Regions from separate parts of the Homo sapiens genome. Here region 1 is linked to region 2. The links come from fine-mapping of genetic effects on gene expression. A gene starts in region 2. The other region holds a variant in brackets. All regions are shown on one strand. Distances are from middle to middle. Region 1 overlaps LOC124904541 (a long non-coding RNA gene). Region 2 holds the start of CCSAP (centriole, cilia and spindle associated protein).

Region 1 (8,681 bases), 74 kb before region 2:
TACCATTGCAGGAACGGAGACGTGCGATATGGAATATAGTTATATGGAATAACTTAACCCTACTTGAACTTCTTCTCAAGTAAATGCTTCAAAAGGATGCCTGTCATCCCTGGGCGCGTGTCAGGGCGCATGTTAGGGCGTCATCTCAGGGCGCATGTCATCTGTTTCTAGAATCTGGATTTTCTGCTAATGTTTGTTTCAGCCTCTAGTGCTCAGTGCAAGGCAGGCAGGTGGAAGCAGGACCATGCAGGTACAGTGAGGCTCCCGGAAGACCTCCATGCTCAGATCTCCAGGTGCCCTGGGGCGGAACCTACCAGGGTCATTCTCCCAGGTTTGGGGGATGGGGGAGCTGCATGTGTTTTCCCACACCACGCTGGCACTGGAGACCAGGAATTTTTAAGCCAGGAAACTCAGCATCTCTGAAATTATCATGGGATCTCTTCCCGACATGGGCAAGGCAAACACTGGTTCAGGCTGGGATGAGGATGAGGTGAGAGGCCCCAGAATCTGCACTTGCACTTGTACCACCAGCACAGAGGATGTGCCTCACTTCCCACACCCAGTCCCAGCCCTGCACTGGGTGGCTGTATTTTTTCCAAGGGGCAGCCCCGGGCACCATGAGGCAAAGCGAATTGTTCCAGGCTACAGGAGAGCACAGGCACTGTGGCCCCCCAGCCAGGGAAGTGTCTGTGTCCTTTTTCCTCCATGCACTTTCCTGGTTATGGGACTACATGGGAGGGAGCTGTGCTGCTCCTCAGTCTGAGAAATTAAGACATCTAAAATCAAGTTGACATTATTCTTCAGCTTATTTTCCAAACGGATCCAGAACCCCCTCCCCTGCTATTGCCCTGCTTATTGGCACCCCCTCCAATCCTCAATTAATTCACTAATTTATTCAACCGACACTTGCTGAGCACCTACAAATCAGTGTCTCGGCCCTCAGGGAGCTGGCAGTCTAGCTGAGAGGCAGATATTGATCAAACAGCAACATGGGCTGGGTGCAGTGGCTCAGGCCTGTAATCCCAGCACTTTGGGAGGCCAAGGTGGGTGCATCACCTGAGGTCAGAAGTTTGAGACCAGCCTGGCCAACATGGTAAAACCCCATCTCTCTCTCTCTCTCTCTCTCTCTCTTTTTTTTTTTTTTGAGACAGAATCTCGCTCTGTCACCCAGGCTGGAGTGCAGTGGCACCATCTCGGCTCACTGCAACCTCCACCTCCCGGGTTCAAGTAATTCTCCTGCCTCAGCCTCCTGAGTAGCTGGGATTACAGGCATGCACTACCACACCCCGCCAATTTTTGTATTTTTAGTAGAGATGGAGTTTCACCATGTTGGCCAGGCTGGTCTCTGTCTCACGTGTCCGTGTGAAGAGATCACCAAACAGGCTTTGTGTGGGCAACAAAGCTGTTTATTTCACTTAGGTGCAGGGGGACTGAGTCCAAAAAGAGAGTCAGCAAAGGGTGGTGGATTATCATTAGTTCTTATAGGTTTGGGGATAGGCGGTGGAGTTAGGAGCAATGTTTTGTGGGCAGGGGGTGGATCTCACTAAGTACATTCTCAAGGGTGAGGAGAATTACAAAGAACTTTCTTACGGGTGGGGGAGATTACAAAGTACATTGATCAGTTAGGGTGGGGCAGAAACAAATCACAATGGTGGAATGTCATCAGTTAAGGCTATTTTCACTTCTTTTGTGGATCTTCAGTTGCTTCCGGCCACCTGACCTTGTGATCCGCCCTCCTTGACCTCCCAAAGTGAAGGGATTACAGACGTAAGCCACTGCGCCCTGCCCATCTCTCTTAAAGATACAAAAATTAGCCAGGTGTGGTGGTGGGTGCCTGTAATCCCAGCTACTCAGGAGGCTGAGGTGGGAGTTTCATGCGCCTTGTGAAGAGACCACCAAACAGGCTTTGTGTGAGCAACAAAGCTGTTTATTTCACCTGGGTGCAGGTGGGCTGAGTCCGAAAAGAAAACAAAGGGAATTAAGGGTGGGGCCGTTTTATAGGATTTGGGCAGGTAAAGGAAAATTACAGTCAAAAGGGGGGTTGTTCTCTGGCGGGCAGGAGTGGGGGTCATAAGGTGCTCAGTAGGGGAGCTTTTTGAGCCAGAATGAGCCAGGAAAAGGACTTTTACAAGGTAATGTCATCACTTAAGGCAAGGACCGGCCATTTTCACTTCTTTTGTGGTGGAATGTCATCAGTTAAGGTAGGGCAGGGCATTTTGACTTCTTTTGTGATTCTTCAGTTACTTCAGGCCATCTGGGTGTATATGTGCAAGTCACCGGGGGTGTGATGGCTTGGCTTGGGCTCAGAGGCCTGACATTCCTGCCTTCTTATATTAATAAGAAAAATAAAGCAAAATAGTGTTGAAGTGTTAGGGCGGCGAAAATTTTTGGGGGGTGGTATGGAGAGAGAATGGGCGATGTTTCTCAGGGCTGCTTCAAGTGGGATTAGGGGCGGCGTGGGAACCTAGAGTGGGAGAGATTAAGCTGAAGGAAGATTTTGTGGTAAGGGGTGACATTGTGGGGTTGTTAGAAGAAACATTTGTCATTTAGAATTATTGGTGATGGCCTGGATACAGTTTTGTATGAATTGAAAAACTAAACAGAATAAGAGAAGGAGAAAAACAGGTATTAAAGGTCTAAGAATTGGGAGGACCCAGGACATCTAATTAGAGAGTGCCTAAGGAGGTTCAGCATAGTCCTGCCAGCAAAGATTATTTACTTTAAGACTTAAGAGTGGCAGTTTGGGGATAGCATCCATATCAGCTGTGATGGCTTGGAGAAACAGTATAAACCGGCAGTGTAAACAAAAGCAGGGCATGTGTGAGTAGCTGAGAACGGTGAATAGGATTATGACTAGACAGAAGATAGTAGGGATGACAATTTTTTTGGAGCACCGTCCAAGTTGGTCTGGTGTCTGGAATGAGACTGGGGCCTAATAAAAAGGAGCATCTATACAGGAGCTCAAATGGGCTGTACCTTGTAGCATTCTGAGGACAGGCTTGAATTCTGAGAAGGGAAAGTGGTAAAAGTATTGTCCAGTCCTTTTTAAGTTGGTGGCTGAGCTTGGTGAGGTGTGTTTTTAAAAGACTATTAGTCTGTTCTACCTTTCCTGAAGACTGAGGACCGTAAGGGATATAAAGGTTTCACTGAATACTAAGAGCCTGAAAAAAATGCTTGGCTGATTTGACTAATAAAGGCCGGTCTGCTATCTGACTGTATAGAGGTGGGAAGGCCAAACCGAGGAATTATGTCTGACAGAAGGGAAGAAATGACCGCGGTGGACTTCTCAGACCCTGTAGGAAAGGCCTCTACCTATCCAGTGAAAGTGTCTACCTAGACTAGGAGATATTTTAGTTTCCTGACTCGGGGCATGTGAGTAAAGTCAATTTGCCAGTCCTGGGCAGGGGCAAATCCCCGAGCTTGATGTGTAGGGAAGGGAGGAGGCCTGAACAATCCCTGAGGGGCAGTAGAATAGCAGATGGAACACTGAGAAGTGATTTCCTTGAGGATAGATTTCCAGGATGGAAAGGAAATGAGAGGTTCTAAGAGACGGGCTAGCGGCTTGTAACCTACATGGAAGAGGTTATGAAATGACAACAGAATAGAATGGGACTGTGAGGCTGCAAGGAGATATTTTCCTTGGTCTAAGAACCATTTGCCTTGTGTGGGAAGAGATTGATAGGTGGAAGTTTCAGCAGGGGAGTAGGTGGGAATGACTGATGTGAAGGAGAAAAACTGGCTGTAAGGGACAGAAGGTGGAGAGCTAGCTGCTTGTCTAGCCACCTTATCAGCATAAGCGTTGCCTAGAGCAATGGGATCTGATGCCTTTTGATGGCCTTTGCAGTGAATGACTCCAGCTTCCTTTGGAAGTGAAGCGGCCTTGAGCAGAGTTTTTATTAGAGGCATTAATGATGGAGGACCCTTGCGTAGTGAGGAAACCTCTTTCAGCCCATGTGACCACATGGTGGTGCAGAATATGAAAGGCATATTTAGAATCAGTATAGATATTGACGCATAGTCTTTTTGCAAGAGTGAGGGCTTGAGTTAAGGCAACTAGTTCGGCTTTCTGAGAGATAGTGGAGGGGGGCAGAGCAGTAGCCTCAATGATAAATGTGGAAGATACTATAGCGTAGCCTGCCTTTGCTGGTGAGTGGCGATTAGGCCTGGTGGAACTGCCATCAATAAACCAAATGTGATCAGGGTGAGAAACAGGAAAGAAGGAAACGTGGGGATATGGGGTGAACGTCAGGTGGATCAGAGAGATGCAGTCATGAGGGTCAGGTGTGGTATCTGGAATAATGTGGGAGGCCGGATTGAAGTCTGGGCCAGGAACAATGGTAATTGTGGGACTTAACAAAGAGTGAGTACAGCTGAAGGAGCTGAGGAGCAGAAAGTGTATGCATCAGGTGTGAGGAAGAAAATAGATTTTGGAAGTTATGAGAACTGTAGAGAGTGAGTTGAGCATAGTTTGTGATTTTGAGGGCCTCTAAAAGTATTAAAGCAGTGGCAGCCACTGCAAGCAGACATGAGGGCGAGGCTAAAACAGTAAGGTCAAGTTGTTTCGACAGAAAGCCTACAGGGTGCGGTCCTGGCTCTTGTGTAAGAATTCTGACCGCACTAACCATGCCTAGGAAGGAAAGGAGTTGTTGTTTTGTAGAAAGGATTGGGGTTTGGGAGATTAGCCGGACACGATCAGCAGGGAGAGCACGAGTGTTTTTATGAGAATTATGCCGAGATAGGTAACAGATGAGGTTGAAATTTGGGCTTGACTGAAGTAATGGGGGATGTCTGTGAAGCCTTGCAGCAGTACAGCCCAGGTAATTTGCTGAGCCTGATGGGTGTCAGGATTAGTCCAAGTGAAAGTGAAGAGAGGCTGGGATGAAGGGTGCAAAGGAATAGTAAAGAAAGCATGTTTGAGATCTAGAACAGAATAATGGG[C/T]TGTGGAGGGAGGTACTGAGGATAGGAGAGTATATGGGTTCGGCACCATGGGGTGGATAGGCAAAATAATTTGGTTGATAAGTCGCAGATCTTGAATCAGCCTGTAAGCCTTGTCTAGTTTTAGGACAGGTGAAATGGGGAAATTGTAAGGGGAGTTCATAGGTTTTAGAAGCCTATGCTGTAGCAGGCGAGTGATAACAGGCTTTAATCCTTTTAAAGTGTGCTGTGGGATGGGATATTGGCGTTGAGCGGGGTAAGGGTGATTAGGTTTTAATGGGATGGTAATGGGCATGTGATCGGTTGCCAGGGAAGGAGTAGAGATGTCCCATACTTGTGGTTAAGGTGGGGGGATACAAGAGGAAGATGCAAAGGAGGCTTTGGGTTTGGGAGAAGGCTGGCAATGAGATGCGGCTGTAGTCCAGGAATAGGGAAGCAGATAATTTAGTTAAAATGTCTTGGCCTAATAAGGGAGCTGGGCAGGTGGGGATAACTAAAAGAGAGTGCATAAAAGAATGTTGTCTAAGTTGGCACTAGAGTTGAGGAGTTTTAAGAGGTTTAGAAGCCTGGCCGTCAATACCCACAATAGTTATGGAGGCAAGGGAAACAGGCCCTTGAAAAGAAGGTAATGTGGAGTGGGTGGCCTCCGTATTAAGAAGGGGATGGACTTATCCTCTACTGCGAGAGTTACCTAGAGCATCTGTGACGGTCCTGTAGGCTTCCGAGGCGATCGGGCAGTGTCAGTCTTCAGCTGCTAAGCCGAGAAGATCTGGGAAGGAGTCAGTCAGAGAGCCTTGGGCCAGAGTTCCAGGGGCTCTGGAACTGGCTGCCAGGTTAGTTGAACAGTCTGATTTTCAGTGGGGTCCCACACAGATGGGACATGGCTTAGGAGGAATCCCGGGCTGTGGGCATTCCTTGGCCCGGTGGCCAGATTTCCGGCACATGTAGCAAGCTCCTGTGGGAGGAGGTTCTGGAGGAACGCCTGGCAGCTGCGGTTCAGGCGTTTGGAAGTTCTTGTGTGCTGGAGATGTGGCTGGGGTTTGTCTCACAGTGGAGGCAAGGAATTGCAACTTTTTTCTATTATTGTACACCTTGAAGGCAAGGTTAATTAAATCCTGTTGTGGGGTTTGAGGGCTGGAATTTAAGTTTTGGAGTTTTATTTAATGTCAGGAGCAGATTGGGTAATAAAATGCATATTGAGAATAAGACGGCCTTTTGACCTTTTAGGGTCCAGGGCTGTAAAGCGTCTCAGGGTTGCTGCCAAACGAGCCATGAACTGGGCTGGATTTTTATATTTGATGAAAAAGAGCCTAAACGCTATCAGATTTGGGATAAAGAAAAAGGAGCATTAACCTTGACTATGCCTTTAGCTCCAGCCACCTTTTTAAGAGGAAATTGCTGGGCAGGTGGGGGAGGGCTAGTCACGGAACGAAACTGTAAGCCGGACCAGGTGTGAGGAGGGGAGGCGATAAAAAGATTATAGGGTGGAGGAGCGGAGGCTGAGGAAGAATTGGGACCTAGCTCAGCCTGGTGAGGAGGGGAGAGGTCAGATGGGTCTGTAGAAAAGGAAGATTAGAAAGACTCAGCGACCCTTGGGGTTGGGACTGAGGGGACAGGCAGGAGGGAAAGAAGGAAGATTTGGGACAAGTTGCATTGGGCACAGAGACTAGGAAGGGACTGATGTGTAAAAGAATGCCTGGACATCAGGCACCTCAGACCGTTTGCCTATTTTACGACAAGAATTATGTAGATCTTGCAGGATGGAAAAATTCAAAGTGCTGTTTTCTGGCTATTTGGAACCACTGTCAAGTTTGTATTGGGGTCAAGCGGCATTGCAGAAGAAAATAAGGCATTTAGGTTTGAGGTCAGGTGTGAGTTGAAGAGGTTTTTAAGTTCTTGAGAACACAGACTAAGGGAGAAGGAGGAGGAATGGAGGGTGGAAGGTTGCCCATAGTGAAGGAGGCAAGCCCAGAGAAAAGAGAGCATAGAGACACGGAGGGAAGGGGTTTGGGGGTTCTTACCCTCCAGAAAAGTGGGAAAGGGGTTGGGGCATGGAAATAAGGGATTGGGGGTTCTTGCCCCCTAGAAAAGTGAGACTTGCCACTAAGGGTGAAGGAGAAGGGGTTGAAGGGTACTTGCCCCTCCCCCAGAAAAGCAGAGAAGGGGTAGAGACACAGAGATAAGGGGTTGGGGTACTTGCCCCTTCCCCAGAAAAGCAGGACTTGCCGCTAAGAGTGAAGCAGAAGGGGTTGGGGGTTTCTTGCCCCCCAGAAAGGCAGAGAAGGGGTAGAGACATGAGAAGGGGTTGGGGTACTTGCCCCTCCCCCAGAAAAGCGGGATTTGCTGCTAAGGGTGAAGGACCAAGTCAGGCGTCCCTGCATGGTCTGACACCTCTGAAACCTGGGTTAATAATCAGAGAGGTGTCCCTGCAATGATTAGACACCAAGGGAAGGCTGCCTTGCCAGTCCATGACCGGCGCCAGAGTTTTGGGTCCACAGATAAAACGTGTCTCCTTTGTCTCTACCAGAAAATGAAAGGAATTGAAATTAAGAAAAGGGAGAGATTGAAGAGTGGAAAGGAGAAAGTGGTTGAGGGACAATGAGAAAGGTTGGAGAAGAGAGTAAGAAGAGGTCACTTACCTGATTTAAAATTGGTGAGATGTTCCTTGGGCTGGTGGGTCTGAGGACCTGAGGTCGTAGGTGGATCTTTTTCACGGAGCAAAGAACAGGAGGACAGGGGATTGATCTCCCAAGGGAGGTCCCCTGATCCCAGTCACAGCAACATATTTCATGCGCGTCCATGTGAAGAGACCACCAAACAGGTTTTGTGTGAGCAATAAAGCTGTTTATTTCACCTGAGTGCAGGTGGGCTGAGTCCGAAAAGAAAGCGAAGGGAGTTAAGGGTGGGGCAGTTTTATAGGATTTGGGCAGGTAAAGGAAAATTACAGTCAAAAGGGGGGTTGTTCTCTGGCTGGCAGGAGTGGGGGTCATAAGGTGCTCAGTAGGGGAGCTTTTTGAGCCAGGATGAGCCAGGAAAAGGACTTTTACAAGGTAATGTCATCACTTAAGGCAAGGACCGGCCATTTTCACTTCTTTTGTGATTCTTCAGTTACTTCAGGCCATCTGGGCATATATGTGCAAGTCACCGGGGCTGCGATGGCTTAGCTTGGGCTCAGAGGCCTGACAGGAGAATCCCTCAAACCCGGGAGGCAGAGGTTGCAGCCAGCCGCGATTGTGCCATTGCCCTCCAGCGTGGGCAATAGAGTAAGATTCCATCTCAAGCAAACAACCAAATAGCAACTTGAACCAATGTGCCTCTGCACATTTCACACATGCTACAAAGGAGGGGTGTGGCATGGGACAGCATTGACCAATCCTCGGTCAGGAAGGGCTTCCAGAGCAAGTGCAGCTCTGAAAGGCAGGTTGAACACCTCTAGCAAGGTCCTGGGATCCTTTAAGTCCTGAAGGGAGGTCAGTGTAGCTGGGAGAGAGGGTAGGGGTGGCGTGGGGTTGTCAAGGAGGCACAGTTGGCCAATCTAGCCTGTGCAGACCCTCCACTGCTGAATGTATATATAATTTTTATTTTAAGAGCAATGGAAATCCATTGAACTGTTTTAAGGAGACAGAGGGAGAGAGAAACACACACACACATGCACACAGAACCTGGCCTCGGTGGGTGTAGGAGGGAGAACTGAATGATAGCTTTCAGGTCTCTGATTCACACATTTGGATGCTCAACGAGGGCAC
Region 2 (8,681 bases):
GCGAGGAGGGGCATCTTCCTCTGATGGAGATTGGGGAGCCAATAGAAAGGAAGATCTGGCCAGGCACAGTGGCTCATGCTGTAATCCCAGCACTTTGAGAGGCCGAGGCAGATGGATCACCTGAGGTCAGGAGTTCAAGACCAGCGTGGCCAACATGGTGAAACTCTGTCTCTACTAAAAATACAAAATCTAGCCGGGCATGGTGGCAGGTGCCTGTAGTCCCAGCTACTCAGGAGGCTGAGGCAGGGGAATAGCTTGAACTCAGGAAGGGGAGTTGCAGTGAGCCAAGATCGCGCCACTGCACTCCAGCCTGGGCGACAGAGTGAGACTCCATCTCCAAAAAAAAAGGGCCTGGAGCTGCACTCCTGAAAGATAAACAATAGATATTTGCCACACAGGCATACAGATTCCACATGAGAAAATCTGCTGGCGACCGAGTCTGGCCAGGAGCAGAACAGGCAGCCTCACAGGGACATGAAGGCTGTCCACCTCTCGGGGGGTGTGGCTGAACCTCTTGGAGCCCTTCCACCCTAAGCCTCTGGCACTATCACTCCCTCAGCTTGCCAGCCCATCCTATCTCAATAATTTTCTTCTTCTGAGCCAGGGGAGGCCATCCTCCGAGGGCTTCCTCAACTTCCCTCTTCCTTGCTTCTGAGAAAAAGCTGATCTTCCAACTCACATGCTGTGTACCCACTCCTCCTGACTCCTCCCCAATTCACGTGCTCTGTACCCACTCCTCCCACACAGTGCTCCTTCCATCCACTGCCCTCTCCTTCCCATTTGTCTCTGGATGGTGCTGTTCTCTCTCCCTCTCTCTCCCCCCGTCCCCAGCCCCCGACTGCCCCTTCCAAATACAAACATACTCAGGAGACATCCGCTATCTACTTGACACTTTTTATGAATTCCCATGCCAGTGTAGAACCTAGAAAAGCCAGATATTTGCAAGCCTCTCTTGTAAATAGGGTGCAGTCGCTCAGGTTAGAGTGCAGTGGTATGATCTCAGCTTACCTCTGCCTCTCAGGTTCAAGTAATTCTCCTGTCAGCCTCCGGAGTAGCTGGGACTACAAGCATGCACCACCAAGTCCAGCTAATTTTTGTATTTTTAGTAAAAATGAGGTTTCGCCATGTTGGCCAGGTTGGTCTTGAACTCCTGACCTCAGGTGATCCGCCTGCCTTGGCCTCCCAGAGTGCCCTTATATTTGTGTGTGTGTGTGTGTGTGTGTGTTGTGTTGAAGATTGTAAAATATGCCCGCAAATTCCTTCACCCGGTATGCAATCCCTTTTGGAATGTGAATTTGCTGCTCCTCTTATGCAGAAGGGAAGTTCATTTCTCTCCCTTGACTCTTAGCCTTGTGATTTCTTTGAACGTGAGAATGCAGCAGGAGATGTATATGACCTTGAGATGCCAGTCCAGGCTTCTGGAGGATGTGACCAAGACGGCCCAGCCCACAGCCCACCCCACTGCCAGTTATGTAAGGGAGGTGTACTAGTTTGTTTTGTGCTGTTATAAAGGAATACCGGAGGCTGGGTAATTTATAAATAAAACAGGTTTATTTGGCTCATGGTTCTGCAGGCTATACAGGAAGCACAGTGTCAGCATCTGCTTCTGGTGAGGCCTCAGGGAGCTTCCAATCATGGTGGAAGGGGAAGGGGAGCTGTCATGTCACATGGAGAGAGAAAGGGAGTGAGAGAGAGAGAGGAGGACATGCCAGGCTCTTTTTGAACAACAAGCTCTCATGCAAACTAAAAGAGTGAGAACTCACTCGTTACTGAAGAATGGCACCAAGCCATGCATGAGGGATCTGCCCCCATGACCCACACACTTCCCACTAGGCCCCACCTCCAACATTGGGGATCAATTTCAACTTCAGATTTGGAGGAATTATCCCAACTATATCAGGAGGTCATCTTGAAACTTCCAGCCCTGCTGTCTCTCCATCAGAATCCAACTGCGGAGGAACTGCCCAGCTAACCCTCAGAATCATAAGAAATAATAAATCTTAGCTGTTTTAAACCACTGAGTTTTGGAGTGAATTATGCAGCAAAAGCTGAAACCGATGGTGTCCTGCATGTCCCATAGAACTACATATAACCATTTCCCCACCTTATTCAATCTTTATTAAGGCTACTTTGGTTGCAAACATCAGAAACCAACCCCAGCCAGCTTAAACAAAAGGAAAGTGCATTAGAATGTCCCTAATGTAAGTCAAGGAACAGAAAATAAAGTTGGGAAGGGGAGAAATCATGGCGTCCGCGGACTCATTAGCAGCAGGGTATCCTGGAGTTTCCGTCCAGAAAACTGCCATTAACACAATCCCGTGCTAATGATTGGACTAGTAACTTCAAGTTTTCAGAGCAGACGGTCTGACCCGCCCCATTTGGGCCAGTAGCCGCCTCTGAATCATTTAGCTATGATGAGGTGGGCGGTGGTGGTGGGAGGCAGGATGCGGACACGTAGAAAGTAGGTGAATTCGTGGGAATCCTGACGTGGAAGCCGTGAGCGCTACTCACGGCCTGGGCTTGCTTTTTAACTGCTATATATATATTTAGATTTTCCAAAAGTTTTTTCCTTTCAAATCTTTTTGCAGCTACTGTATCAAGGCTCTTTTTTTAAGAAAGGGAAAATAGTGCAGGACCACTTCTGAAACTGTAACAAATGGGGCAACGTTGTATTCTTCTGTACAATGTAACTGGATCTGTGAAGGTTTTTATTTTTTATTTTTTATTTTTTTTGAGACGGAGTCTTGCTCTGTCGCCCAGGCTGGAGTGCAGTGGCGCAATCTAGGCTCACTGCAAGCTCCGCCTCCCGGGTTCACGCCATTCTCCTGCCTCAGGCTCCCGAGTAGCTGGGACTACAGCCGTTCACCACCACGCCGGGCTAATTCTTTTTATTTTTATTTTTTTAGTAGAGATGGGGTTTCACTGTGTTAGCCAGGATGGTCTCGATCTCCTGACCTCGTGAGCCACCCGCCTCGGCCTCCCAAAATGCTGGGATTACAGGCGTGAGCCACAGCGCTCAGCCGGATCTGTGGAGGTTTTATGAGCAAAAAGGGAAAACAGTGCGGGGCCACTTTTGAAACTGTAACAAATGGGGCAACGTTGTATACTTCTGCACAAAGTAACTGGATCTGTGAAGGTTTTATGTGTAAAAAGGGAAAAGAGTGTGGGGCCACTTTTGAAACTGTAACAAATGGGACAACTTTGTATACTTCTGCACAACGTAAGTTAATCTGTCAAGCTTTTATGTGCAAACGAATCTCTGAGCGAGTGAAATGGTTTTGATCAAAATCTAAAAGAATTTGGGGAGTGTAGATATAAAAGGGAGTTAAAGCCAGAGTAACAGGTGTTGTGAACACAGAGAGGAAGAACCGGTAGGTTTCGAGTGAGGACAGAGAGTGTCGCCCCCGGCCGCAGCCTGGGGGGGCTGCATATCTGGAGGGATCATCTCTTGCCCCTAACTGACGACTCCTGCAGAGTGACGCGTGCCTGGGACAGCGTCTGCTGGGACCAGGGTGGACGGGCACCTCAAATAAGTGGGCCAGGGACCTGGGCCTGGGCCCCTCGGACTGGCAGGCACGCCCGCACCCCCGCGCCTCGCGCTCTCTACGGAAGCAGCCGCCCCCACGGAGCGGGCGGAGGCCCGGGGGCCGGGAGCGCGCGTGGAGGCTCCGGGACTGAGGCGGCGCCACCGCCTCCCGCCTGCAGCTGGAGCGCGGGCCGCCGCGGCGACATCTTGCTCAGGAGGAAAGCGCGCGGGAGAGCGAGCTGCGCTTTAGCTGCTGCGCCACGCGCGCCTCGGGCCTGGGCGCAGAGGATCGGCCGGGCGCGGCGGGAAGGAGGTAAGGCAGCCCCGCGGGACCGCACGCCTAGCTCAGGGGACGCCTCCGGAGACCCCAGGACCACCCGATCACGGGCCCCGCCGCTCCCCTCCCTCGCTCCTCCTCCCGCTCAGCCCCAGTCTCCTGCGGTCCCCTCGCCCCAGCCCGCAGCCTCCCTGCCTTCCGCCCACTGAGCAGCCCTCCTCGGCGGCGCGCCCCTCGACCCCAGCAGCCCCGGTCCCCGCCTCTGCTCTTGGTCCCGGCCGCCGGGTGAGGCCGCCCCCGCCCCGCCCCCTCCCCGCCCTCGCCGGGACCCGCCCCCTGCTCCCGTCCGGGCGGGGCTCCGGGTTTAAACGTCGCGGCGGGCAGGGCCGGCGGAGGGGCGGGGCGGCCTCTGTGTCGTGTACCGGGTCCCGTAGGCTGCGGGCAGCGAGGAGCGGCTGGCGCTCGAGGCGGCGGACGGCACCATGTCCCCGGGGAGCGGGGTGAAGAGCGAGTACATGAAGCGCTACCAGGAGCCGCGCTGGGAGGAGTACGGGCCGTGCTACCGCGAGCTGCTGCACTACCGCCTAGGCCGCCGGCTGCTGGAGCAGGCGCACGCGCCCTGGCTCTGGGACGACTGGGGCCCGGCCGGCTCCTCGGAGGACTCGGCGTCGTCAGAGTCGTCGGGCGCCGGGGGCCCCGCACCCCGGTGCGCCCCGCCCTCGCCCCCGCCGCCCGTAGAGCCGGCGACCCAGGAGGAGGCGGAACGGCGGGCGCGCGGGGCCCCGGAGGAGCAGGACGCGGAGGCCGGGGACGCGGAGGCCGAGGACGCGGAGGACGCGGCTCTGCCAGGTACCCGGCCCGGAGGGGAGCGCGAGGGGCCTGCACGCAGGGACGGTTTGCTCTAAGCTCTGAGCAGCTGATCTCTTATTTCTTGCGCCACTCGGGGCTGGCTCTTCCTTTTTTTTTTTTCGGTTGACAGAATCCGTCTCTCTTGACAAAATAGGGAAGGTGGCAGCCTTTGCCACCCTTTATTTCCTTAATTAGGTGGCTTTCGGTCGAGCCAGCGGTGAACTCAATTGAAGCGCCGCTGGCTGAGTCTGGGGTCTTTCCTCGCGGGCCTCTGCGGCTTGGCAAACCTCTGAATCCCATCTTATTTCTTGGCGAACCACTGAGTCCCATCTGCTTATTTCTAGGCGCCCATTTTTGATCAGAGGAGCCCCAGCTTTAATCAGATTCTCAAAGGTAACCCAAAAGGTTAAGAACCACAGAGCTAAGCTTTGTCTGATGAATGGGGCCATTGTTTTCCGTATTAACTCCCCGACCTCGCTACGCTGTCCCTAAAGAATATTTTGCATTTGTTTACGTGGAGTGTTGAATAACTTGGCTGTGAGAGCATCTTTATAAGTGCTAGGGCCTCTCCCCTTCCGTCCCTCCCCATCCTCCCTCGCCTGTCCAGATCCGAAAGCGCCGGTGGCGCTGCGCGTGTTTTCAAGGCATGGCCCCTTCACCTTCTTTCCTGCCCAGAGGCTTGCAGGGCTGGGGACCCAGTTGAACGCCTCAGTACAGCCTGGAGTAACCAATGGTTCCTTCCAGATCACTGGATTTTAAAAAGGCTCGAGTGAGGAAAACATGGAAAATGTATTGGGAGCCTGTTAGACATTCAGTCACTGATCTGGGAATATGTATGTTGTCATTTAATATTCAAAACAATCCCAAAAGAGACCATGTTGTAATCTTTTTTTTTTTTTTTTTTTGAGACGGAGTCTCGCTCTGTGGCCCAGGCTGGAGCGCAGTGGCGCGATCTCGGCTCACTGCAACCTCTGCCTCCCGGATTCACGTCATTCTCCTGCCTCAGCCTCCCGAGTAGCTGGGATTACAGGCACGCGCCACCACGCCCGGCTAATTTTTGTATTTTTAGTGGAGACGGGGTTTCACCATGTTGGTCAGGCTGGTCTCAAACTCCTCACCTCGTGATCCGCCCGCCTCGGCCTCCCAAAGTGTTGGGATTACAGGAGTGAGCCACCATGCCCGGCCCTAATCTCAGTTTTATAGATGAAAAAACGGAAGCTCAGGATCAGTGACTTTATTCATTTATGTGTTTATTTTTGTTTACCCGATTGCAAGCCAATCAGACTCTTCCTGGCTTCTCTGTGAGAGGCTGAGGAGGAGATGAAATTTCGGCTATGAGCCGGGTTGCTTTGCTCTTGGTTTTACCATCTTCAGCTATTTTCAGCTCATCATCGGAGGCAGGGCTGCCTCCTCCCATCATGATGTTACTTGTGAATCCCCACAAATCCTGATGCTTCAGTGATCACTGCTAGAAATGCAAATAACAGAAGGTGGAGGGGGTAGGGAACATGCCTTCCAGATTATTCCTGTGGGTACTGATCTGCTAGCTAAATTGAGATGTACTTTATCAGGCTAAATGGCTTTTCTCTCCCCGATCTTTTATTGTTTGTGATGGAGTTGTCAAATATTTGCATGCAATATAAATACAATTTTTAGGCAGCGTTGTGATATGGATGGTGCCTGTATTTACCAGCTCAGGTAAGCTCTGAGTTCATGATTATTTTGGTTTCCTTAAATATAGCGTCCTCTCAGTTATTTCTTCCCTGCTAACGTTTCTGGTTTAGGCATCAGGAAGAAGAAAGGATGTTTTCTGCTTTCAGGACTCAATCGCAGCATCTTTTGTTTTGCTCCTACCCGTAAGGCCCTCTTGACTCCTGTGTTGCTTGCACAAGATTAAATATCCTGGTTTTTAAGTGGATGGTTTTAAATACTAGTGCAATGAGCACTCTTTTGAGTTTCTATAAAATATAAAATTTTTTACTTTCCCTGAAGCCATAGATGCACATAGAATCACGTAGTTCTGTCTGACTTATTACAAAAGCACATCAGCCCTATGCCATACATAACACCCTGGTTTTTCCTTTGGTATTTATTTCTGTATCTCCAAGTAACATGGCTTTTATTGACATGTGATTGTTTTTTTTCAGTTTTTAACATTATCTATTGACTTTAATTCTTTTTTACTGCTCTCCTCACCCACACACACACGGCCCATCTCCACACCTGCACAATACAGTCCTCATAGAGTTTGTTGGATTCATAATTAGTATGTACCGTATTGTGCCCATGGAAAAAGTTACTCAAAGCTGACCCATACTATTTCCCATGATTCCCTTTTTTCTTTCACAATACAACCAACACATCAGGTTCACTATCACTCTTGTCATCTTAAGATGCCTCTCCCAGGGCCCCTGACCTACTTCTGTCTGGGCTGGCTGCTGCTCCTGTGGGCTGCTGCCTGGCTGGCATCTTGGGAGGGCCCTTGGCCATCCTCCTAGGACCTTTCTTGGCTTCTCTCTTGGGTTTGAGTCTCTGTCGTGTGCCTTTCATGTCATTTTCTTTCTTGGTTTACCCCTTCTTGGTGGAGCACATCTTCTAGTAGATTCCCAAGAAAGGATGGTTCAGAGGTTAGCTTTCTTTGAATGCCAAGAGATAGCTTTATTCTACCCTTACAATTTGGTGAGTGTGGCTGGGCATGGAATTCTAGGTTGGAACAGTTGTCCGTAGAAACTCTGGGGGCATTCCTCCTTATGTGTTATGACTGCTGATGTTACAGCCTGCCTCGTTATGATTCTTGATCTTGATCTTTTGTAGGTAATGTGTTGCCCTCAGGAAGCTTTCACGGTCTTCTCTTTGGCCTTTATGTTCTGACATTTTTCCTTGATCTAGATCTGTTTTCCTTTGCTTTGCTGGGCACTTGGCAGGTCTTTATAGACAAACTCATGTTTTTAATTCCCGGAAGTTTTCTGGAATTATTTTCTTATTTCTGTTTTTTTTTTTTTTCCCATTTCTTTTTTTTCTGAAGTCCTTAGTTGGATATTAGACTTTATCATTTTATCCTCTAATTTTCTAAGTTTTTTCTTGACAGATTTTCATCTTTTATTGTTTTGTTTTCTGGGTGATACTCTCAGCTGTATCTTCTAAATCTCTTATTACATTTTCCATTTGAGGGATCCTATTTTTCTTTTAAATGTAAGAGCTCTTGAATTGTTTTCTGGGCTGCCATTTATTCCCTCCCTTACCTCCCTCCTTTCCGTCCCTTTTTATTTCTTTTTACAACACAGTATCTGGTTCCTGATTGATGCATGTAGGGTTTTATCTTACTGAGGATATATATTAGAATTTTTCGTTTGTTTTCTTCTCTTTCTGTGTTTCTTCAGCACAATCTTTCACTTCTGCCTCTTTGTTTCTTTTTGCTGGTAATTCTCTATTTTCATGTTAGGCACTTTTCTCAAATGTCTAATGATCCTTCGTTTCTCATTCTTATTTAAGGGATGGATACTAAAAAGCTGTTAGGAAATTCTGTGTGTGTGTGTGTGTGTGTGTGTGTGTGTGTGTGTTGGGGTTTGGGGGTGGAAGTGCTTGTGAACCGTGAGATTCTTTTCCTCCCATAGCCAATATGCTATGAAGAGTGGTCTAGACTGTCTCCGATTCCTTACTTCATAGTCACGTTTTCTTTTTAGGTTAGATTTTATTTTTAGCAAAGTTTACATGTGCAGTAATTTAAAACATTTTGCTTAAAATGAAAAAAACATGATCCTGCCCCATTTCCCACCCATGCCCCTTGCTCCTTTCACTCAGTTTCGCTTTCCTTTCAGCATTGGCCACCCTCTTTTTATTTAATCTTATCTGTTGGCTTTTTGATTGTGAACATTATCTACTGACTTCCCATTATGGGAGATGAAGATTTAGCTCAGGATCTTAGCTCTGCCTTCCCTATTCTACCCCCAGACACATACCAACACCCATTTCCTCTTCTCCATATCCCCACAATATTAACTATATGATTGCTTTGTTTAATCTCTGTTC

What was found. PIP is the estimated chance that this variant, and not a neighbour inherited with it, causes the effect.
Region 1: its variant is fine-mapped to the expression of CCSAP in whole blood (TOPMed, PIP 0.96). The same link has a PIP of 0.9 or more in monocytes.

What each region holds. Positions count from the first base shown.
Region 1 is chr1:229,411,857-229,420,537 of GRCh38, reverse strand. LOC124904541 (a long non-coding RNA gene) reads right to left here. Exons shown (of 2, transcript XR_007066925.1): 2 at 8,496-8,681. Among named protein-coding and RNA genes, the nearest start is that of ACTA1, 18 kb to the left of the region's middle. RefSeq lists enhancers at 1,425-2,178, 2,179-2,934, 3,566-4,067, 5,330-5,830. The variant C/T (reference allele first, on the strand shown) is at 4,939.
Region 2 is chr1:229,338,070-229,346,750 of GRCh38, reverse strand. CCSAP (centriole, cilia and spindle associated protein) reads left to right here and starts at 3,704. Exons shown (of 4, transcript NM_145257.5): 1 at 3,704-3,839; 2 at 4,238-4,652. The coding sequence starts at 4,286. RefSeq lists silencers at 2,255-2,549, 3,396-4,255, 4,456-4,655.